Homo sapiens: one gene and its partners. The protein of the gene in region 1 purifies or fractionates together with the protein of each later gene. This does not show direct contact. Each region holds a gene or a part of one and is shown on either strand. Other genes may lie near its edges. The genes, in order: MCOLN2, TTC28, POTEF, STX16, MGAT1, UTRN and UFSP2.

What was found.
Region 2: the proteins of MCOLN2 (region 1) and TTC28 purify together in Homo sapiens (affinity purification with mass spectrometry; one large-scale study listed by BioGRID and IntAct). This does not show direct contact.
Region 3: the proteins of MCOLN2 (region 1) and POTEF purify together in Homo sapiens (affinity purification with mass spectrometry; one large-scale study listed by BioGRID and IntAct). This does not show direct contact.
Region 4: the proteins of MCOLN2 (region 1) and STX16 purify together in Homo sapiens (affinity purification with mass spectrometry; one large-scale study listed by BioGRID and IntAct). This does not show direct contact.
Region 5: the proteins of MCOLN2 (region 1) and MGAT1 purify together in Homo sapiens (affinity purification with mass spectrometry; one large-scale study listed by BioGRID and IntAct). This does not show direct contact.
Region 6: the proteins of MCOLN2 (region 1) and UTRN purify together in Homo sapiens (affinity purification with mass spectrometry; one large-scale study listed by BioGRID and IntAct). This does not show direct contact.
Region 7: the proteins of MCOLN2 (region 1) and UFSP2 purify together in Homo sapiens (affinity purification with mass spectrometry; one large-scale study listed by BioGRID and IntAct). This does not show direct contact.

What each region holds. Positions count from the first base shown.
Region 1 is NC_000001.11:84,994,314-84,998,260, reverse strand, and holds the start of MCOLN2 (mucolipin-2), read left to right. Parts: upstream 1-1,147; 5' UTR 1,148-1,388; coding exon 1,389-1,465; intron 1,466-3,947. UniProt on the Homo sapiens protein: Nonselective cation channel probably playing a role in the regulation of membrane trafficking events. Acts as a Ca(2+)-permeable cation channel with inwardly rectifying activity.
Region 2 is NC_000022.11:27,977,514-27,980,677, forward strand, and holds the end of TTC28 (tetratricopeptide repeat protein 28), read right to left. Parts: 3' UTR 501-3,164; downstream 1-500. UniProt on the Homo sapiens protein: During mitosis, may be involved in the condensation of spindle midzone microtubules, leading to the formation of midbody.
Region 3 is NC_000002.12:130,108,723-130,112,222, reverse strand, and holds part of POTEF (POTE ankyrin domain family member F), read left to right. Parts: intron 1-121; coding exon 122-228; intron 229-1,542; coding exon 1,543-1,680; intron 1,681-1,865; exon of another isoform or gene 1,866-2,936; intron 2,937-3,500.
Region 4 is NC_000020.11:58,661,283-58,664,782, reverse strand, and holds part of STX16 (syntaxin-16), read right to left. Parts: intron 1-3,500. UniProt on the Homo sapiens protein: SNARE involved in vesicular transport from the late endosomes to the trans-Golgi network.
Region 5 is NC_000005.10:180,792,807-180,796,306, reverse strand, and holds part of MGAT1 (alpha-1,3-mannosyl-glycoprotein 2-beta-N-acetylglucosaminyltransferase), read left to right. Parts: intron 1-431; exon of another isoform or gene 432-1,426; intron 1,427-1,940; exon of another isoform or gene 1,941-2,040; intron 2,041-3,209; 5' UTR 3,210-3,335; coding exon 3,336-3,500. UniProt on the Homo sapiens protein: Initiates complex N-linked carbohydrate formation. Essential for the conversion of high-mannose to hybrid and complex N-glycans.
Region 6 is NC_000006.12:144,459,835-144,463,334, forward strand, and holds part of UTRN (utrophin), read left to right. Parts: intron 1-1,362; coding exon 1,363-1,508; intron 1,509-2,819; coding exon 2,820-3,032; intron 3,033-3,500.
Region 7 is NC_000004.12:185,412,465-185,415,964, reverse strand, and holds part of UFSP2 (ufm1-specific protease 2), read left to right. Parts: intron 1-97; coding exon 98-255; intron 256-617; coding exon 618-810; intron 811-2,092; coding exon 2,093-2,239; intron 2,240-3,500. UniProt on the Homo sapiens protein: Thiol-dependent isopeptidase that specifically cleaves UFM1, a ubiquitin-like modifier protein, from conjugated proteins, such as CD274/PD-L1, CYB5R3, DDRGK1, MRE11, RPL26/uL24, TRIP4 and RPL26/uL24.

The DNA of each region.
Region 1 (3,947 bases):
CTTTCATCCCGACGCGGGCGCAGGGCAACTCGCTTTTCCTATTCCTTGCGCGCCGGTCGCACTTTCTAACATCTCAGAAATATGGCCCTTGTCACAGACTTTCATGATCGTGCACTTTAGAGAAAAGCCAGAATGAATGAACTTGTCAGTTTAATGTGAAGTCCTCAAGGGAAAGGACCATGTCTTTGTCATCCCAGAGACCACAGTACCCAACGGTCGGCTTGGCTCTCAGTGAGTGTTTCCCTAAGCATCAAAACAGGAATGACCAAAGCAACGGACAAATTAATGCATGTGGAAACAAGAAATGAATGCATGAGAGAGTGAAGAAAAGAAGGGGCCAGGCGCAGCGGCTTACACCTGTAATCCTAGCACTTTGGGAGGCGGAGGCAGGAGAATCGCTTGGGTCCAGGAGTTCAAGACTGCAGTCAGCAGTGATCGCAGGTCAGGCGACAGAGTGAGACCCGGTCTCACCACCACCCCCCCGAAAAAGGCAGGAACCCCAGAGGGCCGGGAGTGCCAGGTGCGGCCGCCCGGGAGCGGTGTGGAGGGTGCGTGGGCCACTTTGCCGCAGGGCCCACCGCCCGGGTCCCTCTGTAAGGCGCTTCTCCGGCAGACACCCCGAGCCAAAGCGGGCCGTACCGCAGCGTTGGGCACTTGGGTGGAGAGTGCAAGGGCGGCGGGCCTGCGCCCAGACAGGTGTAGCCGTCCCACGCTAGGTGTCCTCCTGCCGCTCCCTGGCCGCGCCATGCCTCGAGGCATGGAGGTGCTGGACCTGCCGGTGTGCAACCGCGCCTCGGGCCTGTCCTGGGGGCCGCACCACAGGTCAGTGCCCCACGGCGCCCTTGGCGTGCCCCACGCCTCCCTGGGGGCCCCACCGCCGCCCCCTTTTGGGACTGCTTACTTCCTCGGCTCTTCTCGCGCGCGCCTCGGTTCCATCCCCTACGGCCCCCACCCCGCCTCCGCGTCGCCGACCCCCTTCTCCGGGAGCGCGGGGAGGCTGGTCCGCTGAAGCGTGGAATAAGTCCCCTAGGACCCCAACTGGGGAAGCTCCGGTCCCCGGTAGGAGGCGGCGGGGCGGGGCGGGGCGGGGCAGCCCCTTGGGGGCGGGGCGGGAGCGCCTGGCCACGCGCCGCATCCTGCAGGGTGCACACAGAGCCGCCTTTCAGCCGCCCGAGAACTGCCCGCCGCACTCCACGACTGCGGCGCCTGCTCTCGGGCCGGGGTCTGCGCGCACCACGCGGCCGGCAGAAAGGGTAAGAGAAGGGAACCCCGCTTTGCAGGGCTCCAACTTCGGCGGACGCGTTACGGCGAGGGCGAAATGAGTCGGCCGTGAACGGTGTTTCCTGTTCCGAATCCCGAGAGCCCTGGAAAGTTTTGAAGGAGGAGGCATGGCCCGGCAGCCTTATCGTTTTCCCCAGGCAAGGATTCCGGAGAGAGGATCAGGTGTTTTCAGGTTAACCGTCAGGTGAGGAGTCTGGGCTTCATCTTTCAGGATGCTGGACTGGAGAAATCTTCCTAAAGTCGATGGCTTTACTTTCGTAGACTAGAGCTTGCTTGCTGCCTTGGGAATGCTTATATTAACTGCTTGCAGTTAGTTAAATAAGGCTAGGCTGTGCCTTCCAGAACAAACAGGCCTTTCCCTCAGGTGGGAGGGTTGTAGTGTGGCTAACCCCAGTTCCTCGGCCTTTATGAAAAGGCGCACAGTTCAGCCGGTTGGCGCTGCCAGCGGGCCCCTCCTCCGTGGTCAAACCTCCAGCCACCCCAGCACAGTTGAGCCAAAGTTGTGAGTACAAACAGACCTTGGCTCCCCCGTTTCCTGCTCTCCAAACATATATATATATATATATATATATATATATATATATATGAAATATATACGTATGTGTAAGTGTGTGTGTCTCTGGTTGAACGGTACTTGTGGGAAACAAAATTGTGTGTCATTGTAAACTGAGAATGGAAGAAAAGGTTAGTAAGAGAAAGGTGGGAGAGGTTTCTTATGGGTGTCAGGATGTAGACTCTGATATTTTATGTAGAGGGAACCAACTACGTAGTTCTCCCCAGAAATGGGATGTGGGTTTCACTCTCAGGAGCTGCTCATCACCTTTGTGATGTGCTAACCAAAATCGCACAACTTTTGGGAAATTTGATAGCTTTCCCCTATTGAGTCAGAAGTTTCTTGAGACTTTAGCCTGTCTTCCTCTTCATACCTTAAGAGGAGTCAAACTCCCGTTGCCGTGAACTTTCCACAGGCACACCCTTCTCCTTTAGAAAACCGTTCATAGGTCAGTTTCTGTGGCCGGAACTCTAAAAACGACACATTTTCCATACAGAGGCCATCATAATACCAATTTTATTTAACCTCCTGTAATAAAAAATGAGTGAATCCTAATAAAGTGTTTGAGGTAGCCACATTCTTTTCTGTGAAGGAGGAACATATCAAAAGTGTTTTTTTTTAAAAAAATAGAGTAATAGATATAAAATATTTTAATGAAGCAAGTGAGAAGAACTGAGAGACATAGTTTGAGCAAAGGGGCACGAAATACAGAACTGAAAGTCAAGAATGATCATATTCACAAGCTGATCTCTTTGGCTATGTCTCTGTCAGTGAAGTGAAACCTAGAACAAGACAATTTTAAAACCGGCGGAAAAAGAGATGGCTTCTTGTGACTATAGCTTTCAAAGTAAAAGTAGTGGCCAAAGAAAACTCTTCTGGCTGTAAAAGTAAAAGTGGACTTTCCTGAAGCTGGGCTGTTTTCTTTAAGGCCTAGGGTCTAAGTTCCGTGTGTCAGTTCTGAAGAATTAAATCACTCTTTAGTGAGCTCTTGTGTCACATGTTAAGGGGTTCATAGAAAAAAGTGCAGGCATACCTTGTTTTATTGTTCTTTGCTTTATTGCACTTTGTAGATACTGCATTTAATTCAATTTTATTTTATTTTACAAATTGAAGGTTTGTGGCAACCCTGTGTCCAGCAAGTCTATTGGTGCCATTTTTCCAACAGCATGTGCTCACTTTGTGTCTCTATGTCACATTGTGGCAATTCTCTCAATATTTCAAACTTTTTCATCATTATTATTATATCTGTTATGGTGATCTGTGACCACTGATCTTTGATGTGACTACTGTAATTGTTTTGGGGTGCCATGAACTGTGCCCATATAAGACAGGGAACTCAATTAATAAATGTTGTATGTGTTCTGACTACTCCACCGACCAGCCATTCTTCTATCTCTTTTCCTCTCCCCAACCCTCTCTATTCCCTGAGACACCACAATATTGAAATTAGCCCAACTAATAACCCTACAGTGGTCTCTAAGTGTTTGAGTGCAAGGGACAATCACAGGTCTCTTACTTTAAAGGTAGGAGTGATTAAGCTTAGTGAGGAAGGTATGTTGAAAGCTGAGACAGACCAAAAGCTAGGCATTTTGTGCCATTTAGCCAAGTTTTGAATGCATATGAGATGTTCTTGAAGGAAATTATAAGTGCTACTCCAGTGAAAATACAAATGATAAGGAAGCAAAACAGCCTTATTGCTGTTATGGAGAAAGTTTTTGTGGTCTGGATAGAAGATCAAACCAGCACCAACATTCACTAAAGCTAAAGCATAATCTAGAGCAGGCCCAAACTCTCTTCAATTCTGTGAAGGCTGAGAGAGGTAATGAAGCTGCAGAAGAAAAGTTTCAAGCTAGCAGAGGTTGGTTCATGAGCTTTAAGAAAGGAAGCCATCTCTATAACATGTAAGTGCAAGGCGAAGCAGAAAGTGCTGATATAGAAGCTGCAGCAAGTTAGTTGGAAGATGTAGCTAAGATCATTGATGAAGGAGGCTACTCTAAACAACAGATTTTCAATGTAGACAAAACAGCCTTCTATTGGCAGGAGATGCCATCTAGGACTTTCCTAGTAGAGAGGACAAGCCAGCATCTGATTTCAAAGGTGCAAAGGACAGGAT
Region 2 (3,164 bases), on another chromosome or scaffold:
ATATTATTGTCTAGTATTTTTTGTTAGCCGAATGAAACATTACTCTTTTTATAAAGGCAATATTTGTGTTCATTTATGCATATTTACCCAATTCTTTACTATTCCTTCATGCTTCTCACACTTTTGCATATAGAATTATCTTCCTTCTTTCTGAAATACTACCTTGGAAGTTTTGTTAGATGATATAGGGATCTGGTGGTGATGAACTCTGTTTCTGTTTGTCGAAATACGTATTCAACTGTCGAACTTTCTGGCCCTCCAACTATGAGTAGCGTCTAAATTACCCCCCCACCGACAGTGCCCCCAGACCAGAGACGTGCGGGACAGCTCTGCTGCATGCATGGTCGTGCTCTCTGCTTGGCGGATGTGAGGCTATGGTGTAGAGGTGGGGTTAAAACTAGAGAGATACGTGCTCAGTAATGACACACGGCCCACTCCATGTACTGCAAAGAAACCTAGACAGTGTGGAAAGAGTAGAGAAAGTGATCCAGATACAGCACTTAAAACTGAGGGAACTCATGCTTTAATAGACACTGAAAATCACAAAGGAGGAAGGCCAAGTGCCTTAGCAATCTCAATAAAAATATGAAGTTCTTTTTACATGGTAAATTTCATAATATAAAAAGTTTAATGTCTGGAAATGGTGTAATTTACAAAAAAAGTCCACGTAGGCCAAAGATGGCTAACACTGCATATAAGGAACGTGAATGCCAGTGGGAAGGTGTCTGAGGAGGGGCAGGGCCACAGGTGTCCTGACAGGGAACATCTTTGAAGGATCTGGCACAAACAAGGGCCCAGTTCACAAACCACAGGTACACTCATTTTAGATAGAACAGCAGAATAGGTGATGAAAATTATACAGTTTTCACTTGTTGCCTACTTACTGAAAGCAAACCAGATTATTGCATGGCATTTTTCCAGCCTGAACTGAAATTATCAAGGCTACAGTTCTTCTTGTGGGTCTGCAAATGTGTGTGGCTGGGAGGTGGCAGAATCGGCACGGGCCAGGGACCGGCTGCAGTGATCATATGCTGGAGCGTCACTGGGACAGAGAGAGCAGGATGAGGACAGCGTGGGTGACACCTTTGTCTCCTGCTAAAACCCAGCAAGTTTCAGTGTGGACCGTGAATTTTTAAAAAATGGAATGGAGGTGAAAACTTTCATTTTGTGTTGCACATCAGTGTGGATCAAAATGTAAGTTTTAGTAGCAATTTTTCTCTTGATATTTTGACTTAATTAAAAAAATCAAATTAGTTGAGTCATTTACTGGAGAGAATTAAGAAAGCTTTGACTCCCTTGCTCTGTGGTCCTGCTGAGGTTTCTAAGAGAGGGGAGTTGTACGGCTTATAGTCATTGTATTTACATCTGATGGAGTAGCAGAGGGTGGGGCATGCCAGTTTCCTGAGCTAAAAGGAAATATATGCAATGCTTTCTGCAAATGGTAAGGAAAAAATTGTTTTGTAAATATTACATCCATGGACTCCTCCCAAGTGGGACAAAGAGCCAAGGGCTATGCAGGAGGCATTTGCTTCCATCCACGTGGCCCTCACATACCCTGGGCTCCCCGGACGCCAGTCAGTCTATCCACTACCTGACTTGCTTTTCCTAGACTGGAGAAACAAAACGTTATTCCATTTTCTGTCATCCATACCAGGAGTCAGCAAACTTCTTAAAAGGCCAGGTATTGGCTGGGCGCAGTGGCTCACCTGTAATCCCAGCAGTTTGGGAGGCCAAGGCGGGCGGATCCCCTGAGGTCAGGAGTTCGAGACCAGCCTGGCCAACATGGTGAAACCCCATCTCTATTAAAAATACAAAAATTAGCAAGGCATGGTAGTGGGTGCCTGTAGTCCCAGCTACTTAGAGGCTGAGGCAGGGAGAATTGCTTGAACCCAGGAGGAAGAGGTTGCAGTGAGCCAAAATCGCACCAGTGCACTCTATCCTGGGTGACAGAGCGAGACTCTGTCTCAAAAAAAAAAAAAAAGGCCAGGTATTGAATATTTTATGTGGTGTGGGCCAAAGGCAAAATCAAAAATATGATGTAATTACTTATATAACCCTTTAAAAAGGTAACTTAGCTCATGGCTGTGAAAAACCAGACCGCTGACCAGTCTTAGCCTGTGGGTCATAGTTGCCAACCCCTGATCTACACAAAGAAATCTTGGTGAATTATACAATTTCCTTTAATTCTAAGTGCATACTTTTTCCAGTGTAGCCTGAAACATTCACTGTGATTTTATGATTTTACATCCATTTTACTCATACAAGAACACCAAGACTGACATACACGTAAAGTGGCGGTGACTTTACAGTGGCCTCTAGACTGTTCTATCATTTTATCACTTTTGTTTTCCCTTCCTTGAAACTTATATTTAAGACAGAATAAAACCACATAAACCATTGGCTCTTCAGTATGAAACCTAAAACAACGATGTACATGGGACTAAAACCAGGTTAGAGTCCATGAGTAACTCCTAGCTGGCTCAATAACCACAGGAAGCGGCAGGGTGGTGGGGGTGTTTGCTAGAGAGGGGCAAATAGGGCCGCAGCCTTCCCCTCACAGAAAGAGAGCACAGACCCCAGAGCTTTACTCCAGGGATCCTTGGCACTTGGGAAAGAAGGAGGCTGAGAGATTTGCTAAGAGAGGGACAGCCTAACCATCTGCATATGGATTTAGAAACTTGAGGTTTACTTTTCATTGTTAAGAACCTGATTTTGCTATCTAATGCACAGTGCTATAAATTTGGTCTTCACTTGCTACACTGGTACTTTTATTACCATTTTTTCCCCTACTAACATAAAGAAACCCTCATAATTGCTGGCTTCTTTATAAAGTACTTCGCTTTCAGTGTTGGGATCAGGGCTAGAATAAGACATGCTTATTGTTGGCTTTTGTCAACATGGCTGTTGGTTAAATTAAAAACCCCTAGGATGGAGCTCAGGAGAACACAGATTGGATAAATATTATCCTTTCTTCTTTTCAGAGGAGTACACTGAGGAACAGGTGAGATTGTCAGTGTATGCGCAGAAGCTGAGATCCCACCCATGGTTAAAACCCCCACCTGGGGATCCTGAGGTCAGTGCCCCCTGCCAGGCCCCTCAGGTCTGCTCCATGTGCTGCTGGTGGCCCAGGCCAGGTGGCCGCCCACCTTCATGAGGAACCCTGT
Region 3 (3,500 bases), on another chromosome or scaffold:
ACTACATTTTATTTACTTCTATGCGTGTAAGTCCATAAGATCTTATATAAAGTTTCCACTTCGGTTGAGGAATATGTACTTTTTTGAATTACATAGGTTTTTGCTTTATATTGTTTTACAGCATGGCCTCACACCACTGTTACTTGGTGTACATGAGCAAAAACAGCAAGTCGTGAAATTTTTAATTAAGAAAAAAGCGAATTTAAATGCACTGGATAGATATGGAAGGTATAGTTCTTTCTTTTAATCTGTGTGTTGTAGATGGACAGCAGTCACTCAAGTCATAAATATTAAATTAATAAGATTAATGTATACTTACTGGGATGTAGTGATCAGTATCAACACAAATCAGTTAGGTAGAAAAACAATTACTTGGGCTGGGCAACATAAAGAACAGTTTTAGTAGGATTCATCTTCTCTTATTATATTGACTGATGTTATTTGTTATGTGACATTTTTGGTTACATGATCTTATGTTAGCTTAAAGGATTTCATATTAATTTTATGAAGTTTGAACTTTAACTTTTAGTTTACTTTATGACTCAGTATTGAACTTCTTAACCCTTTCTAATAGTTTTTAACCTGTGTCTTACATGCTTTTCCATTAAATATGCTGTATTAAACATAAATAGGGGTTGAAAATCCTTTTGTCTTTTTAATGACTTTGCTTTAAGTTGCTTTCTTTGAAGAATATTAGTGTTAGCTTATCCCTACATAACAATTAATTGCTGTTCCCACATACTGTGGGTTCAACAGCTTTTTTCCTTTTGTTTTTCCAGTGTATTTTGATGTTTTTATTTTTAATTGGTATGGAGAGAGGGAGTGAAGATAGTTTTAAGTGGATACACTTTTCCTTTAATGAAGACAAGCCGTACGTGGGTGATAAAGAGAAAAGAGCTAGGCTTTGGATTCACACAAGACTGGGTTTAATTAGTAACTTTCTTACTTGCTAGGTGTGTGACCTTGGGGACGTTATTTACCACCAAATATGTTGTCATATATGAAAAGTAGGAGAATATATCCTTCAAAGTTGGCTGTGCATAAGTAAGAAAGATATATGTGGCATTTAATTCAGTGCCTAGCACATGGTTATTGGCACCATTAACTGAAACTCCTATGACTACTATTCTTACCATTATTATTACTGCTTTGAGCATGCAGAGAGCTCTTATTTCTCTTACCCCCTAGCTGATTTTCTATTACAGCATGTCAGTCTAGGGAAGCTGTGACAAAATCTTCACTTAAATCTTTGTCCACCTCAGATAAGTGGCCCTAACATTGTTTCTTGCCCATCAAAGGACTTTAAATTAGTAGCTTCTGCTATGCAATACCCCACTGAGATAAGAGGGTTTTTTTTGGTCCCTTCCTTTTAACCTTGGTGGCATTTTACAAAGATGAACACTTGAGCACTCAGGTTGCTTATGTCTTTTAGTGCATGTAAATGTTTGATTCTGCACAGACAGGCAAGATGTTACATTGGTAAAGTATATCAAATTAGCTTTAAAAATAACTTTATTACAGTTCCTATCTCTGTCATTTTAGAACTGCTCTCATACTTGCTGTATGTTGTGGATCAGCAAGTATAGTCAGCCTTCTACTTGAGCAAAATATTGATGTATCTTCTCAAGATCTATCTGGACAGACGGCCAGAGAGTATGCTGTTTCTAGTCATCATCATGTGTAAGTGTTTACATTAAAAGGCTAGTTAATGCTGAATTGAGGTTTAAAATAATTATAACAGTTGCATCTCACATATCAGGTGAGATGTCATAGTTTGGTTCAGGTAGTTTTCGCGTGGCAGTGAGTTTTAGTCCCCTGCATCAGCCAGAAATCAGACAAAAAGCAAGACAAGTTAGAAGTACCAATGGGTGCGGGATTCTTTATCTCAGGACTTTTAAGATCTTTATCCTTAGAGATCCCAGCATTGTTCATTTGATCCAAGTGTAACACCTATGCAGGGATAAAAAATAGTGTCACATCTTTAATTTTTCTGATTAGTTATTTGGGTCTTGAAATGTCCAGTTTAGCGGAAAGTCTTGTACTGTCTTCTGGGGACTATGTCCTACATACTCCTTGAATTTTTCAAGAACCGAAGGAGTTCACTAAATCCAAGGAAGACAGTCCCTTTTATCAAGTCAGAAGGAGGAGGAAAAAAGACATTGCAATCATTCTGTTGTTTCCGTTGATTCTGTTGCTGCTTTGTGGCCACTCAAACTGGTCCTGCTGCCTTAAGATGAATCAGTAGATTCAGATCCCTCAAGTCTTCATGGCGATTCATACAGTGACTTTGATGTTTTTTAATTCCCATACCTATGCTTATATGCTCAGCCATTGTTCCCAGAGCACCAGCCCCCTGCTCTGGCCGCTGGGCATCCTGACTTTATCCGCACACAAAGTGACCAAATTGACCCTTCCCCGCATATTCAGAACCTAATGTGGAACCCACATCTTAGCCAGGAATTAGCTGAGACCTTCATGGTAAGAGATCCTTTGAGGCTGTTGTTGGTCTTTTCTCTGGCAGATGTTAGGTGGGCTTGTTCTAAAGGGTGAGAGGGGTTCAAATAATGTGGCAGAAGGAGGTCAGTGTCTGTTTCCTCTTTGCTACCAGATCTGTACTGTGAGGCACCTTTATATCCTGTATAGAACCTTGGGCAGTAGAAAGTCCCGTATGAACCTTGCCCTGAGCAGTGGCTCCCAGCTGTGGTTGGCCCCTTGAGTGATCTGATTTACATGATAATGAAAATTATCGGAGCTACTTCCATCTCTAGCTCAAGATTTTAAGATATTTTCAAACTCTAGCTCACAGGAAGCCATTGAAGAGAATTCTCAGAATCTCAAGTAGGTTAGTTGGACTTCACAGAGCCAAGCCTTGTCCATGACGCATCACTAATCATATGTAAAAGTAGGGCTTTGTGCTTGCTTCGGCGGCACATATCCTAAAATTGGAACAATACGGGGAAAGTTAGCGTGGCTTCTGCATAAGGAGGCAGGACAGATCTTTGAAGCATTCCATATTTTGTGCAGTCACTGGAAGGTCATTTGACTATTTTTGCTGACTAGCTCTGAGGAAATAGTGTGAATCAAAGCAAAATGGGTGCCACCCAAATATTGAAATTGTGATTTGTGCTGCAAAAATAGTCATGTAAGATGGTCTATGAGATGACTTTGAGCTGAATAACATGTTCCGTGCAAAATATATTGTTAGTATGTATGTCGAAAATTACAGAATGTCAGCTTGCTACTTCTCCGTGGAAACTAAAAAAAAAATAAAAGTAGACTTTTGGTCTCCCATGTCAGCTGGAATTGAACATCAATATAAAGCATTATCCTAACAGACATCTACTGGCTGAGAGTTTGAGTCGGTAGAGAAGGATCGTTGGTCCAAGTCAGGTCTTAACATCCATTGGTTTTTCTGCCCTTGGTGTGATTGATCAACTCCGTAATAGTGGACAATCACATTATCTACTTTAATGAGATATTTATGAATAAATTTAGTTATA
Region 4 (3,500 bases), on another chromosome or scaffold:
AACTAAAGAAGACAGAGAGATGGTATCTATCTAAATTTACCTGCATTGGGATTAGTATCATTTTATCCAAAACAACAAATTATAAACCACATATGAAAAGTCGGTTGAAGTGAATACAACTCTTTGAAGCAGTACTTGATTTTATGCATGTGTTCCCCTCAAATTAGATGTAAATCAAAAGTGGGGAGAACACACTCTTTGTTAAGGGTCCTAAGGAAGCTTGCTAATTAGAGATTCCTACATGAACAGCATGGATGCCAGCCTGCTCAGCTGGTACTAGCTTTCCCACACATTGTATCAGAGTTTTGCCAGTAAGATAGAACAGCTGATTCTTTGGGAATGAAAACTTTAAATAGCGAATAATTTGTCTCTTTTATGATACAGTCTATAGCTATAGTTCATTATAATAAAGAAACACCACCCTATTGAGAAGAAATGTGTCATTTCTTTTAGCAGTATGGATTTGTAATGTGTATCACAGTATGTACTATTAAAAAACAAGACAGTATGTTTTGGGAAGGGAAAACAATTGTTGAAGATAAGCGTCAACTATTTGAAATGGGAACAAATATGGACATAAACAAATTTTATGTGCAACATAAGCACCCTTTTAATTTCAGAAACCTCACTTTCCATTTAAAAACATGTCTTCTTATTGTTGAAGATCCAGCATATGTATCAATTTTCAAGCTGCCATCCTATTTCATACAGATCTTAAAAAATGGCCAGGTTTCTAATTCTCTCTCCTTACCCTTACTGAATTTCAACATGGTGCCCCCTCCAAATATATGATGTTGGTTTGTGCAGCTGGCCATGGTGGCTCACGCCGGTAATCCCAGCACTTTGGGAGGCTGAGGCAGGCGGATTGCCTGAGGTCGGGAGTTCAAGACCAGCCTAGCCAGCACGGTGAAACCCCGTCTCTACTGAAAATACAAAAATTAGCCGGGCATGGTGGCATGCACCTGTAATCCCAGCTACTCGGGAAGCTGAGGCAGGAGAATCACTTGAACCCGGAAGGCAGAAGTTGCAGTGAGCCAAGATCGTGCCAATGTGCTCCAGCCTTTTATTAAGACAGAGCGAGACTCCATCTCAATACATAAATAAATAAATAAATTTGTGCTTCTGAAGTAAAAAAAAAAAAATCCATATTTTTTAAATAAAAATTGTACTTAAGAGAATTAAGAATTCTTGCCTCTTTGATATGTAGTTCCTCTCTCCAAGAACTACTGGGGTCCGCTACCCTAACCTAGAGCCATCCTTCCTGAGAGAAATGCAGAAAAAATCCAACAGATGTTCAAAACAGCACACCCAATGGCTTTCCTGCCAGTCTCACTAAAGGTATCTTTTGCCTTTGATCCACTTCAAATGTTGACATTTGTCCATTTAAAGAGTACCAGCCAGTATGGACAAGTTCTCCATCTATGGAAAGAACATACACATTCTCTCTTATAAATCTTGCTGTTCCAAATCTATGGCCCTCCTACTCTTAAAAACCCTGCCTTTCCCTGAAGGCTGATTTAGTGTAGACTAAGATTACAGAAATAGCAAAGCCTCTGTGGAGATTGGAAAAGTCAGCTACACCTCCTCCCCATCTAAAAAAATCAACTAAGTTTAGCCGTAACGCATTGGTAATGAGAACAATACCGATAATTCTGGACTGTCTATGGCAATGAACACTTGGAAAGCCCAGAAGGGACACTGAAAATCAACAGACTGGCAACTCACACTTCCACGTGAAACTCTGGGAGCCTGTATGATGAAGTCAGACTACTTCGCTAATAGACAATTAGGCTTAAGAAATCCGAGTTGTTGGAGAAGTGAATAAGCATGTGGATAAAAGAAAAAAGTGATGTCAGCACTACATTTTTCTAAACCCGTAATAATTTTAAAATAATGCTTACCTTTTCTAATTATGAAATTAGTAAATGGTCAAAATAAATACTTTTAAAATGGCATAGGATGACGCAGTGGCTCACGCCTGTAATCCTAGCACTTGGGAGGCCAAGGCAGGCGGATCACTTGAGCTCAGGAGTTCGAGACCAGCCTGAGCAACATGTCAAAACTCCGTCTCTACTAAAAAATACAAAAATAAATAAATAAATAAAATAGCCACGCATGGTGGCACGCACCTGTAGTCCCAGCTACTCAGGAGGCTGAGGCAGGAGAATCGCTTGAACTGGGGAGGCAGAGGTTGCAGTGAGCCGAGATCGCGCCACTGCACTCTAGCCTGGGCAACAGAGTGAGACTCTGTCTCAAAAAAATAAAAATAAATGATACAAAAAATATAGAGATAAAAACACTTGAGAATCACATCACCCTGATACTGTTGTTAAGTTTCACTGATTTTCCTTTTTTCTCAACTAACATACATACTCTGAGGGGAAGAAAAAGGAGGGGAGCAATCCGTCCCTCCCTGCCTTCTGTGAGCACTGTACTGAGCACTGCTACTGACCTGGCCCATGCCAGTCCCAAGAACAATCCTTCAGAGGAGCGCCGCTCCCTATTTCACCAACATGGACACTGGGGCCCGGCCCAGGCACTCCCAGATGTGCAGTCCTCCAGGCAGTGTGGTTTGGGGGCTTGACATTTGTTATCTTGTGACTTTTAAAATAATTCTTGAGTTTAAAAACTCCCAGAGATTTCTTTGTCATAAGACAGGAAGTAGATTAAAGACAGAGAACAAAGGAGAGGGCCAGACACTTCCCTGGGTAAGAGAACCAATGGTGGGCTCGGGTCCTCCTCAGGGAACACCTTACTTAGTGTTTTCTGAGAAGGAAAAGTGACATCTCCAGGGTACTCAGGCTAGAGGAGGAGAATGACAATCAAACATGGACAGACTGCAGGAAGCCTCTGAAGTGAGGCCGTCAGATGCCTTTACTCTGGGAGATGCAAGTGATATTCACTCAGGGACATTTGCTCAGGCCTCCCCTATAAAGGGGTGGCTAACATCTAATCCACTCTGGAGCTGGGTGTTCACTATTTCCAGAGATGCCAATGTGAGGCCCTGCGTCAGCTTCAAAGAAGCCTCTGGACACTGTCCCCAACCACACCCCCTGCTCCTAGGCCAGTACCTGGCACTTCAGAGTCCTGAACGCACAATCACAACCAGCTGAGTGATCCGACAAGAAACGAGTGGAATGAATGCACGAGGTAAATAAAATGTACGTCACAGACAATTGTGGAAGCCACACTTCATGAAAAAGATAACGGCACTGCACAAAAGAGCAAAAGAGGCAAGTGAAACGCACAAGGAAATGAGGTGGCCGTGGGCACCCACGATGAGGCAGCAACCTGCATTTCTAATAGCACTGGGGTGAGCGTGGAGGAGATAGTGCTCTCTACGCAGGGCCTCTGATCACAGAGCGTGAAGACTCCCTTTTAAGCCCTTAGAGGTGAAACATAAGAAAAGCAAAAGGGCCTGCCAAGTTCATGCAGTGAGTAGCCAGTTTCTGGAACTTGCTGCCTGAAAAAGGAAGTAGGAAAGACTGGAAATCGGTTCA
Region 5 (3,500 bases), on another chromosome or scaffold:
TAGGAAGAAGACAAGTGGTTGGTGGTGAATGCTGGCAGGGGCTGGTGAAGTCTCCCCAGGAGGGAGACAGAATCCATGTCTCTTTAGAGGCCCTTCAGGATCAGCCCTTTTATACCAGATCTGCTGGTTTGAGAGCCCAGAGCCTCAGAGGTTAGATCTGAGGCCCAAGGTTTTGGCCAGGATTAGAGAGTAGCCTGTGAGGCAGAGGGCAACTGGCAGAGCTGTTGGTGTAAGAGGGTGCACGCCTGAAGCTTTGGGGTGTAAAGGGTAGACCAGAGGCAGGACAGTCAAGGAGTTATGGTCTGGAGTGGCAGCTGGCTGGGAATTGGGGAGTGTTTCAGATCCTTTCAAGTAATGTGGTCTGGTAGAGCTTGGAGGATTGGTGGGACCATGCCTTTTTCTCACTGGTTTGTGTCCTGGTTCCTTCCCAGAGCCTGGCAGAGAGCAGGTGTGTGATACACGTCGTCAGGTGACTGACCGAGGAATTCAGGGCAAACAGATCATCTCAATTTGCCTTGCTGATGTGCCAGCTGGGATTACGCTGATGGATGAAGCTCTTCAGAGCTATGGGCAATATCTACATATTTGATTGTCAAGAAACTTCGTGTGGAAATAGCTTCAAACTTACACAAATTGCAAGAATAAAAAATAGTATAAGGATATTCGTACACACTCTCTTTACTCAGATTCACCTGTTAATATTTTGCTCCATTTGCTCTCTATGTGTGCAGAGTATGTTTTTGTTCTGAACCATTTGAGAAGTTGCATCTATCCTGGTCCTCTACTTCTCAATACTTCAGTGTGTATTACCTAAGAATTGGAATTAATCAGTTATCACTGATACTTTAACCTACTGTCCATATTCCACCTTTGTCATTTTACCCAATAACGTCTTTTTAAAAAAAGTTTTTTGAGGTTTCATTGACATACAATTGATATCAATATGTGCAAAGAACTGCATATAAAGTGTACAATTTGATAAGTTTTGACATATATGTGTGTGTGTGTATATATATATATATATATATACCTGTAAAAGTATCACCACAATCAAGATAATAAACATATCCACCCTTCTAGAAGCTTCCTAATGCCCCTGTGTAGTAACTACCCTACTGCCCTTCTCTGCCTCCATCCCCAGGCAACAACTGATCTGCTTTCTGTAATATAGATTAGTTTCTATTTTCGGCAGTTTTATGTCAATGGAATCACAGTGTATGTGCTCTTTTTTGTTTTTCCCAAAAAGACCCATATTGTGTAATTATTTGGAGATTGTGTTGTGTATGTCAGTGGTTTATTCAGTTTTATTGCTGAATATTATTCCATTCTATGAGTAAACCACAATTTGTTTATCTGTATTTCCCTGTTGATGGGCCTTTGGGTTATTTCCAGTTTTGAGTGATTATGAATAAAGTTACCATCAACACTCCTGTGTAGGTTTTTGTAGGGACATGGCTGAAAGTAGAAAGAAATGGGGCATGCAGGAGAGACTGGGCTTGGTTATAACAGCCTGTTATCCCTGGGGAACTAGCTCACTCACCAGAGGACGTTAGGAAGGATCTGCCCCTGCCCCCCTTGTGATCCAAACACCTACCACTAGACCCCACCTCCGGCAGCACCACCACACAGGGGATCAAATCCCAACATGTGTTTCAGAGAACAAACCATATTCAAGCTATAGCATAGCTACGTAATTATTATAACACTATTAATAAGACCATCTTTGCCTTGGGAATTTTAAGTAGCACCTTTATTACATATTAGATTTTTTTGTGTAATGAGTCTGTTTCTGGAGCTTAAATTCTATTTCACTGGATGGTCTGTTTATTTATGTACCAGTACCACGCAGTTGTAATTATGGAGGTTTTGTAGTATGCCATATATATATATATATAATAAAAAAAAATTTTTTTGAGACAGAGTCTCACTCTCTTGCCCAGGCTGGAGTGCAATGGCACAATCCAATCACAGCTCACTACAGCCTCAGCCTCCCAGACTCAGGTGATCCCATCTCAGCCTCCTGAGTAGCTGGGACCACAGGTGCGTGCCACCATGCCCAGCTTTTTTTTTTTTTTTTTTTAATTGTTACTTGTAGAGACAGGGTCTCCGTGTGCTGCCCAGGCTATTCTTGAACTCCTGGGCTCAAGTGATCCTCCTGTATTGGCCTCCCAAAGTGCTGGGATTGCAGGTAGGAGCTACTGCATCTGGCCAGTATGCAGTATTTTCATATCTGGTAGGGCTGAGTCCCTCCTCACAGCTTATTTTTATTGTTTTCCTAGTTTTTCATGTGAACTTTACTGTCAGTTCGTCTAGCTCCATAAAAAGGTATTTTTATTGGGATTTTTGATGATGCTGAAATGTCCTGACCAAGAACAAGGGATATTCAGATGTTCTTTTGTGTCTTTCAGGAATGATAGTTTTGTTCACATAAGTTTTGAATGTTTAAGTTTATTTAAGTTTATTTCTAAATATTTTCTCATTTCTCTGGCTTTTGTAAGTAGGGTTTTCTCATCCATGTTTTCTTCTCATGAGTTATTTGTGGATATGAAGGCTATCCATTAGTATATGTTGATTTTTATATTACACTTCCTTGCTCAGTTCATTATTGATTCTTTTTGAGTTTTCCAGGCATATTCTCACAAGTAAAGATAATAGAAATAGTTTGCTTCCTTTCCACTTCTGCTTTGAATTTTTTTTTCTTGGTTCATTTGCATTGGCTGCTTCCTCCAGCAAAATGTTAAATAACCCTGGAGATGATGGGCAACTTCGTTTTGCTCCTGACATTCGTGGGGTGCCTCTGGTGCTTCCCTGTTGGTAAGGGGTTAACTGTAGCCCTGAGGTGGGACATTTGATTTTAAAAATCAGTCATCTTGGGGCGCTTAGGTTAGAGGAATGGTAGGCAGATGCTGTCACTCCTTGCCCCTCCCCTCCTCCTTCCCACCTGGAGGGGAAATGAAATCTGACAGGTAGAAAGAGGGGAGTTGGGGTTCTTTTTCTCTCTCCCTCCACCAGCATCACTCTCTGCCTCTCCCTCAAAAATACGTTCCTGGGTCAGGATATATGTTGACTCCCTAGAGAGCTCTGGAGTCAACCTCCTGGCCTTCCTCCACCCTCACTCTTGGCCTTTTCCTGCCCCCATTTCCTCTACCTGTGGGGCATGGAGCCACGAGCCTTTGTGTGACGGTTTGCTTTCTCTCTCCTGTCTTTAGGTGCATGGCTGCCTCCTAATCCCATAGTCCAGAGGAGGCATCCCTAGGACTGCGGGCAAGGGAGCCGGGCAAGCCCAGGGCAGCCTTGAACCGTCCCCTGGCCTGCCCTCCCCGGTGGGGGCCAGGATGCTGAAGAAGCAGTCTGCAGGGCTTGTGCTGTGGGGCGCTATCCTCTTTGTGGCCTGGAATGCCCTGCTGCTCCTCTTCTTCTGGACGCGCCCAGCACCTGGCAGGCCACCCTCAGTCAGCGCTCTCGATGGCGACCCCGCCAGCCTCACCCGGGAAGTGATT
Region 6 (3,500 bases), on another chromosome or scaffold:
CCACCTCAGCCTCCCAAAATAACAGGTGTAAGCCATTATAACAGGTGATATAACAGCCTCCCAAAATAACAGGTGTTAGGCAAAATAACAGATGTTAGCCTCCCAAAATACCAGGGATAACAGGTGTCAGCCATTGTACCTGACCTGGATATAATGATTTTTAAAGATTTTTTTTTTTTTTTTTTTTGAGAAACAGGTGCAATTTCTTCCTTTGGTTGAGGAGGCCACTTAATATCATTGCTAGGAGGATCAAAATGAATGATCCCTTACTTCTGTTTCCTCAAAATAGTTAAAGTTTTGGCAGTCTCATACTGTCTTTTAAAAGAAATCATATTCCACTGTCAGATTCAGAAAAATTTTAGAGTTCTTACTTTTGGAATACACTTGGTTTTGGAAGGTTCACTGTTAAAGATTTTGAAAGCTCATCCCTCCTACGTTACACTATTTACTTCCTAGCTGCCATTTGAGTTAGGAACTGTGTTGCATTGTGCATTATTTTGTGAAATGCATTGAGCATTGTGTGAAATGCTCCACATGTAACCCAGCCTAACTTCAGCAATTGTAGATTGTGTGATGACTGGAAGTGTCTGTATGTGTGCATGCTAGGCAAATGTGTCGTATTGCCTTTCTTCTGAAAGTGCATCTGGACAGCATGTCTTTGTTCCTTGAATTCAGTTATGTGAAATATGTCTTTGAGGGTACCTCTTTCTCCACTTATTGGTACAAGCTGTGCTTTCACTTTTGACAAGGATCAGTAGGCAGTTTAACTTTTGCTGCTAGTTGGTTTCACCTCTTTGTGCTTCAAGAGAACTCACTTCCTTTCCACGCAAGTGTTACTTCTGTGATATTTTTACATTAGTGACTGAGGTAGACACTGTTCCAGCTGGCTGTTCAGTCATTATTTCTCAGGGTACCTGGGCAGCATGGTGGCAGTATTTCCATATAATCTCCTCCACTCTGGACCTGGGTTTGTCTACACGGTGGAGCTTACAGCAAGACTGGTTGAAGGGATCTTTGTTTTCTTTTATTCTTTGTGTAGCTGTTAAGGAAGAGGAGATTATATGGAACAAAAGGGACATTGTTGTTCCATCTTCAGAGAGACATTTCATCATGAAGAAATGAAGAAAAATTATAGTGGGTTAGTTAATATTTCAAACGTCAACATCCGCAGGAATGAAGTCACTGTCTGACTCTCAGAAATGCCAATGGAATGATCTATGTTGTTAATTAACAGAGACCCTTTTACATTTTAATCATGGGGTCTCCTTTGCCATGTATTGGAATTCATTTAGGATAATGGTCTATGTAATAATATTGGTTCCTAATATGATTTTTTCAAACTAAATATTTTTAAATAAACAGAACTGAAGGGCCAACCTGGACATGCATATCTGGAAACATTGAAAACACTGAAAGATGTGCTAAATGATTCAGAAAATAAGGCCCAGGTGTCTCTGAATGTCCTTAATGATCTTGCCAAGGTGGAGAAGGCCCTGCAAGAAAAAAAGGTAACATATATCTTCCATGTTAGAACTCTAGCGCTTCTTCTAATATCTCCTCTTACATATTTTGAAATGTTTTTTCAGAGATTAAAAAAAAAGTTGGTCAGTTTTGTTCATCATTGGTGCAAAAATGTGTTTATGATTTGAGGGTTAGTTTGACCTCACATAAAAGAAAGTACAGTTATTAAAAATTTTTTCATAGAAGAAAAGCATATTTTCTCCTTCTGCTGTGATTAGCTTAAAATTCTCAACCTGTTCATAAAATCTGCTAAAATATCTTTATGAAATGAGGACTATCAGTTGACGTGTTGATGTATACTTTTTTCTGCATCGAATAGGAATGTTTCCGAGGTCATTTAGTTGAGTAGCCTTATGGCTCTGTGCTATTAGATGAAAAGGAGAGCAGCCATTGAGCACTGCACACTTGGCCCACACTGGGTTTGCTGTTCCCTTGGTTTTTAGGGTTGAGAATACACTGTATTGCCCACACACAACTCATGAAGAAAAAGCTTTAATTTTTATGATTATGCCTATTTTTTTCATGAGTTTTTCATGTTTTGTTTTGTTTTGTTTTTTGATTTCCAACTTTTATTTTAAGTTCAGGGGTACTTGTGCAGGATGTGCAGGTTTGTTAAATGGGTAAACGTGTGTCATGGTAGTTTGCTGCACTACGTATTAAGCCCAGCATCCATTAGCTCTTCTTCCTGATGCTTTCCCTCCCACCATGCCCCACCCTCCAACAGACCCCAGTGTGTGTTTTTCCCCACCATGTGTCCGTATGTTCTCATTATTCAGCTCCCACTTATAAGTGAGAATATGCGGTATTTTTTTTTGTTGTTTCTGAATTAGTTTGCCGAGGATAATGGCTTCCAGCTCCATCCATATACCTGCAAAGGACATGATCTTGTTCCTTTTTATGGCTGCATAGTATTCCATGGTTGATATGTACCACATTTTCTTTAAGTAGTCTATCATTGATGGGCATTTGGGTTGATTCCTTGTCCTTGCTATTGTGAATTGTGCTGCAATGAACATAGTGTGCATATATCTTTATAACAGAATGATTTGTATTCCTTTGGGTATATACCCAGTGAGATTGCTGGGTCAAATGGCATTTCTGGTTTTAGGTCTTTGAGGAATCACCACACTGTCTTCCACAGTGGTTGAACTAATTCACACTCCCACCCACTGTTCTTTTTAGATAAAAATGCTTTCTAATGCATTTTAAAGTGACTTTTGACTTTATATAGCCCATTTTACTATATCTGTGCAGACACATTTTTGTGCATATTTTTAATCTTTTAAAACTTTTTCCAGACCCTTGATGAAATCCTTGAGAATCAGAAACCTGCATTACATAAACTTGCAGAAGAAACAAAGGCTCTGGAGAAAAATGTTCATCCTGATGTAGAAAAATTATATAAGCAAGAATTTGATGATGTGCAAGGAAAGTGGAACAAGCTAAAGGTCTTGGTTTCCAAAGATCTACATTTGCTTGAGGAAATTGCTCTCACACTCAGAGCTTTTGAGGTAAATCCAGAGGCCACTGGGAGTTTAAGTTTATTACGGGGTAAATAGTAATTATCTTATAAGATTCACGTATTTATTATTTAAATATTTTACATTCTTTCTAGATCCCCATTTATTATGTATTTAAGTTGGGACTTATCAAAGATGTACTTTTAATGTGCTAGAGAGCACATTTATTTCCTTTTGCCTGGAAGCAAAGTCAAAAGTAGAGTAAACTGGACCTTGAAGATAAGAGAAAATTGCTTAAAAATGGTCAAAATAATGTTTCAGGCATGGAGGGCCTGTGTGAAATACAGACTGTTGATTAGATTATAGTAGTAACTTGGTTGGGGTGGTAGAAATAGCCCAGGTAGTAGTAAATTGCTGAATACATGAAACTACTTTTTGCAGGTTTTTGACATTTGAAGTCAAAAGTCAGAGATAGGCCATTGACAGTGTCAGAGTGGGAAGGCAAATCGTTCCAGGGAC
Region 7 (3,500 bases), on another chromosome or scaffold:
CTTAATAATAAATACATTTTTGAAAAGTCTTTTTACTTACTCTTTATATTTAGTGTTTAATGCACTACAAGTTGACTATTACTGTTTATCTATATAGCATCAAATAGTAAATATAGATCTTATGCTGGAAATGTCAACCTCCCTGGCAGCTGTAACGCCCATCATTGAAAGGGAAAGCGGAGGACACCATTATGTTAATATGACTTTACCTGTCGATGCAGTTATATCTGTTGCTCCAGAAGAAACATGGGGAAAGTAAGTATTTTTATAGTACCACTGCCACATTTGAATGAGGGCCCTTCCCCAAACCCATGTTTGTATATCCTGTAGGTATACCTAAGGTGTGATTTTCTCCTTGTTTATTATTAACCTAAGAGCCATCTATTAATTAAATGGTTATTTGGAGGAAGTAGGGTAGCATGCTAAAACCTGGAGGATTTCCCTTTATCCACAAAGAGCAAATACACAGTTTCTTTTATAATGTATAATTCAGACTTCCTTTAGCAAACCTGGTCCAATCAAGTTTTTTACTATACTAAGGATATATTAGCTCTGTACTTTTCTTTATTGTAGTCACTATAACTTTTGTTAATACACTTATATATTTCCCCCCACAGAGTTCGTAAACTCCTGGTTGATGCAATTCATAATCAACTAACTGACATGGAAAAATGTATTTTGAAATATATGAAAGGAACATCTATTGTGGTCCCTGAACCACTGCACTTTTTATTACCAGGGAAAAAAAATCTTGTAACAATTTCATATCCTTCAGGAATACCAGATGGCCAGCTGCAGGCCTATAGGAAGGTAAAACCAGTTCATCTATTCTTAGAAAAAACAATAATGACTATCATTCATTTTGTATTTAATTATATATTTCCACTAAATGGAAGGTATTTTGTGATTTAACTTAAAAGTGTGGAATTTAGACTATTCATTTTACACATTATTTAATTTCTGTTCTCATGAAACTTTAAGTAGTATTAATGACAAAATGTTATGTTGAACCTATATGTAACATTTTAATTTTAAATGCTCGGTGTGGTTCATATATTCTGTGAAATTTTAATATTTTTCCATAATGAAATATAGAAATGGTGCTTACATGCCTAAAGTTGCTGGTATTAACAGATTTCTATAACTTTCCGATTTGTGAAAGAGACAAGATTACAGTTAGGGAAGGAAAATGATAACTTATGCTAATTCTGAATAGGATTTATGGTAATACTCCACAAGTAAGGTTATTTGGGCTTTATTAGAGGAATTTTGGAGAAAACATGACCAGCATTCAAAGTAATGAGATTTACTCATGACTGGTTTTGGAGTGCATCTTTTTGATATGTGGACTCGCTTAGAACCTATCAAATTAGACCGTGGAGCATCTTCCTAATTTCTGTCCTTAGGGAGAGCGAGAATACCCTGACCCTCTGTATGTGGAGGTGACTTGGTTTGTAGAAGCAATAGCTACAGGAGCTGATCTTTTAAAACCACTGGAGTACAAGATATGATAAAGAACATGTCAAACTTTTTAAAATACCTATTACATGTTTTTATATAGTTGGGAAAATAACACATTTTAAACATATATGTGTATTTGTTTTCCTGCCATATTGGTTGGCTTTAGACCACTAACTTCTACTCTGTAGTTTAATCACTACCACTTACAATATAAAATATTTGTAAGGCACTCGACACAATTTTGCAAAATACTTTGATATAATTATTGTTAATTATAATTTACTCATTTACAAGGCTATTTCAAAACCAGTCTTTAGCCTGGATGTATTTTAACAGACTATGTTGTAATAAATAATTATTTAAAAATTAGTTCTCTTACTCTAACAATTTATATTCATTTTTCTCTGTTCCCTTCCAGTTTCTACCCAGATACAGACGTAAACGAAAATAAATCTTACTTGGTTTTAGTTCAGTTTTCACCATCTTTGATGTTAGTGAATTAAACCATAAGTGTTTGGAAACTTTTATAACCTATATATAATTTTCCATGTTTAATAACATCTTTATTTATTGACTAGGAATCTAAATCACCAACATTTTTTCTTTTTCTGTTGATTCTGATTTATTTTAGGAGTTACATGATCTTTTCAATCTGCCTCACGACAGACCCTATTTCAAAAGGTCTAATGCTTATCACTTTCCAGATGAGCCATACAAAGATGGTTACATTAGAAATCCACATACTTACCTTAATCCACCTAACATGGAGACTGGTATGGTGAGTTTAACTAATTATTTATGGGAGTCACTGGATCAGTAATGTTATTAGTTGTTTTTTGTTGGTACCCAGTAGGAGACTTGATTCATTATGTATTCATTCCTAAAACATGATTTATCACCCATCTCTGTTAACAGACATTGCTTAAGATAGCAGTAATTAAAAATGGTCTAGAAAAGTTAGTAATAGGTAGATATACCACATTTATCTTACTAAAATTCTCTTATTTCTTTAAAGGCTTGTCCCATTTTTTTTCATTCTGAACCTGAGAAATCATGCTAATTAAGGGCATAGTCTACCCAAACCACACTGTAGGATAAATCTTTTTTTGTTTTTTTGAGACAGAGTCTCGCTCTGTCACTCAGGCTGTAGTGCAATGGTGTGATCTCAGCTCACTGCAACCTCCGCCTCCTGGGTTCAAGCAATTCTCCTGCCTCAGTCTCCTGAGCAGCTGGGGTTACAGGCACCTGCCACCACACCTGGCTAATTTTTGTATTTTTAGTAGAGACAGGGTTTCACCATGTTGGCCAGTAGCTAGGGTTACAGGCACCTGCCACCACACCTGGCTAGTTTTTGTATTTTTAGTAGAGACAGGATTTCACCATGTTGGCCAGGCTGGTCGTGAACTCCTGACCTCAAGTGATCCGCCATGTAGGCCTCCCAAAGTGCTGGGATTACAGGCATGATTCACCATGCCCAGCCACTGTAGGATAAGTCTAATGAGGAACTAGACTTATTTTCCATGTAACATATACCCGGTTGCCAGGGATAGATCCTCCCTAAAGGTAGCTCAAATAAGAGTGAATTGGCGGAGGGTGGTGGAAGGGTTACTTTAAGGATACATGGAGGCCAGTGAGAAAGGACCTTATAAGGCATCCAAGATTAGGAATACCAATAGAGCTGGGCCTCTTAGAAACAGCAGCCCTGTGACTAGCAGGTGTCTTCAGTCTCTCTCAAGGACTCCGTGGATACCTTGGTGGCATTGCTATTGCTTTCTGTGTATGCTTGTGATCCTAACTGGCCTGTTCTTAACTTTTACTCTGTCTGCTCCACCTCATACCCTCTGTATCCTCACTGTTTCAGCTTGTGTGTCACTTTTTCCTGTTCTTCCTCAGCTGCCCAGTGTATGCCTCATTCCAACTGCATTTCCTGCTCCTGGCTGCCTGGCTAACTCTGCACCTCTCAGTTCAGATTCCCAAGAGAAAGAAAACTTGGCTATCGTATGGTGGCATTTATTAATACCTTCTGAGCGTCCAGGACT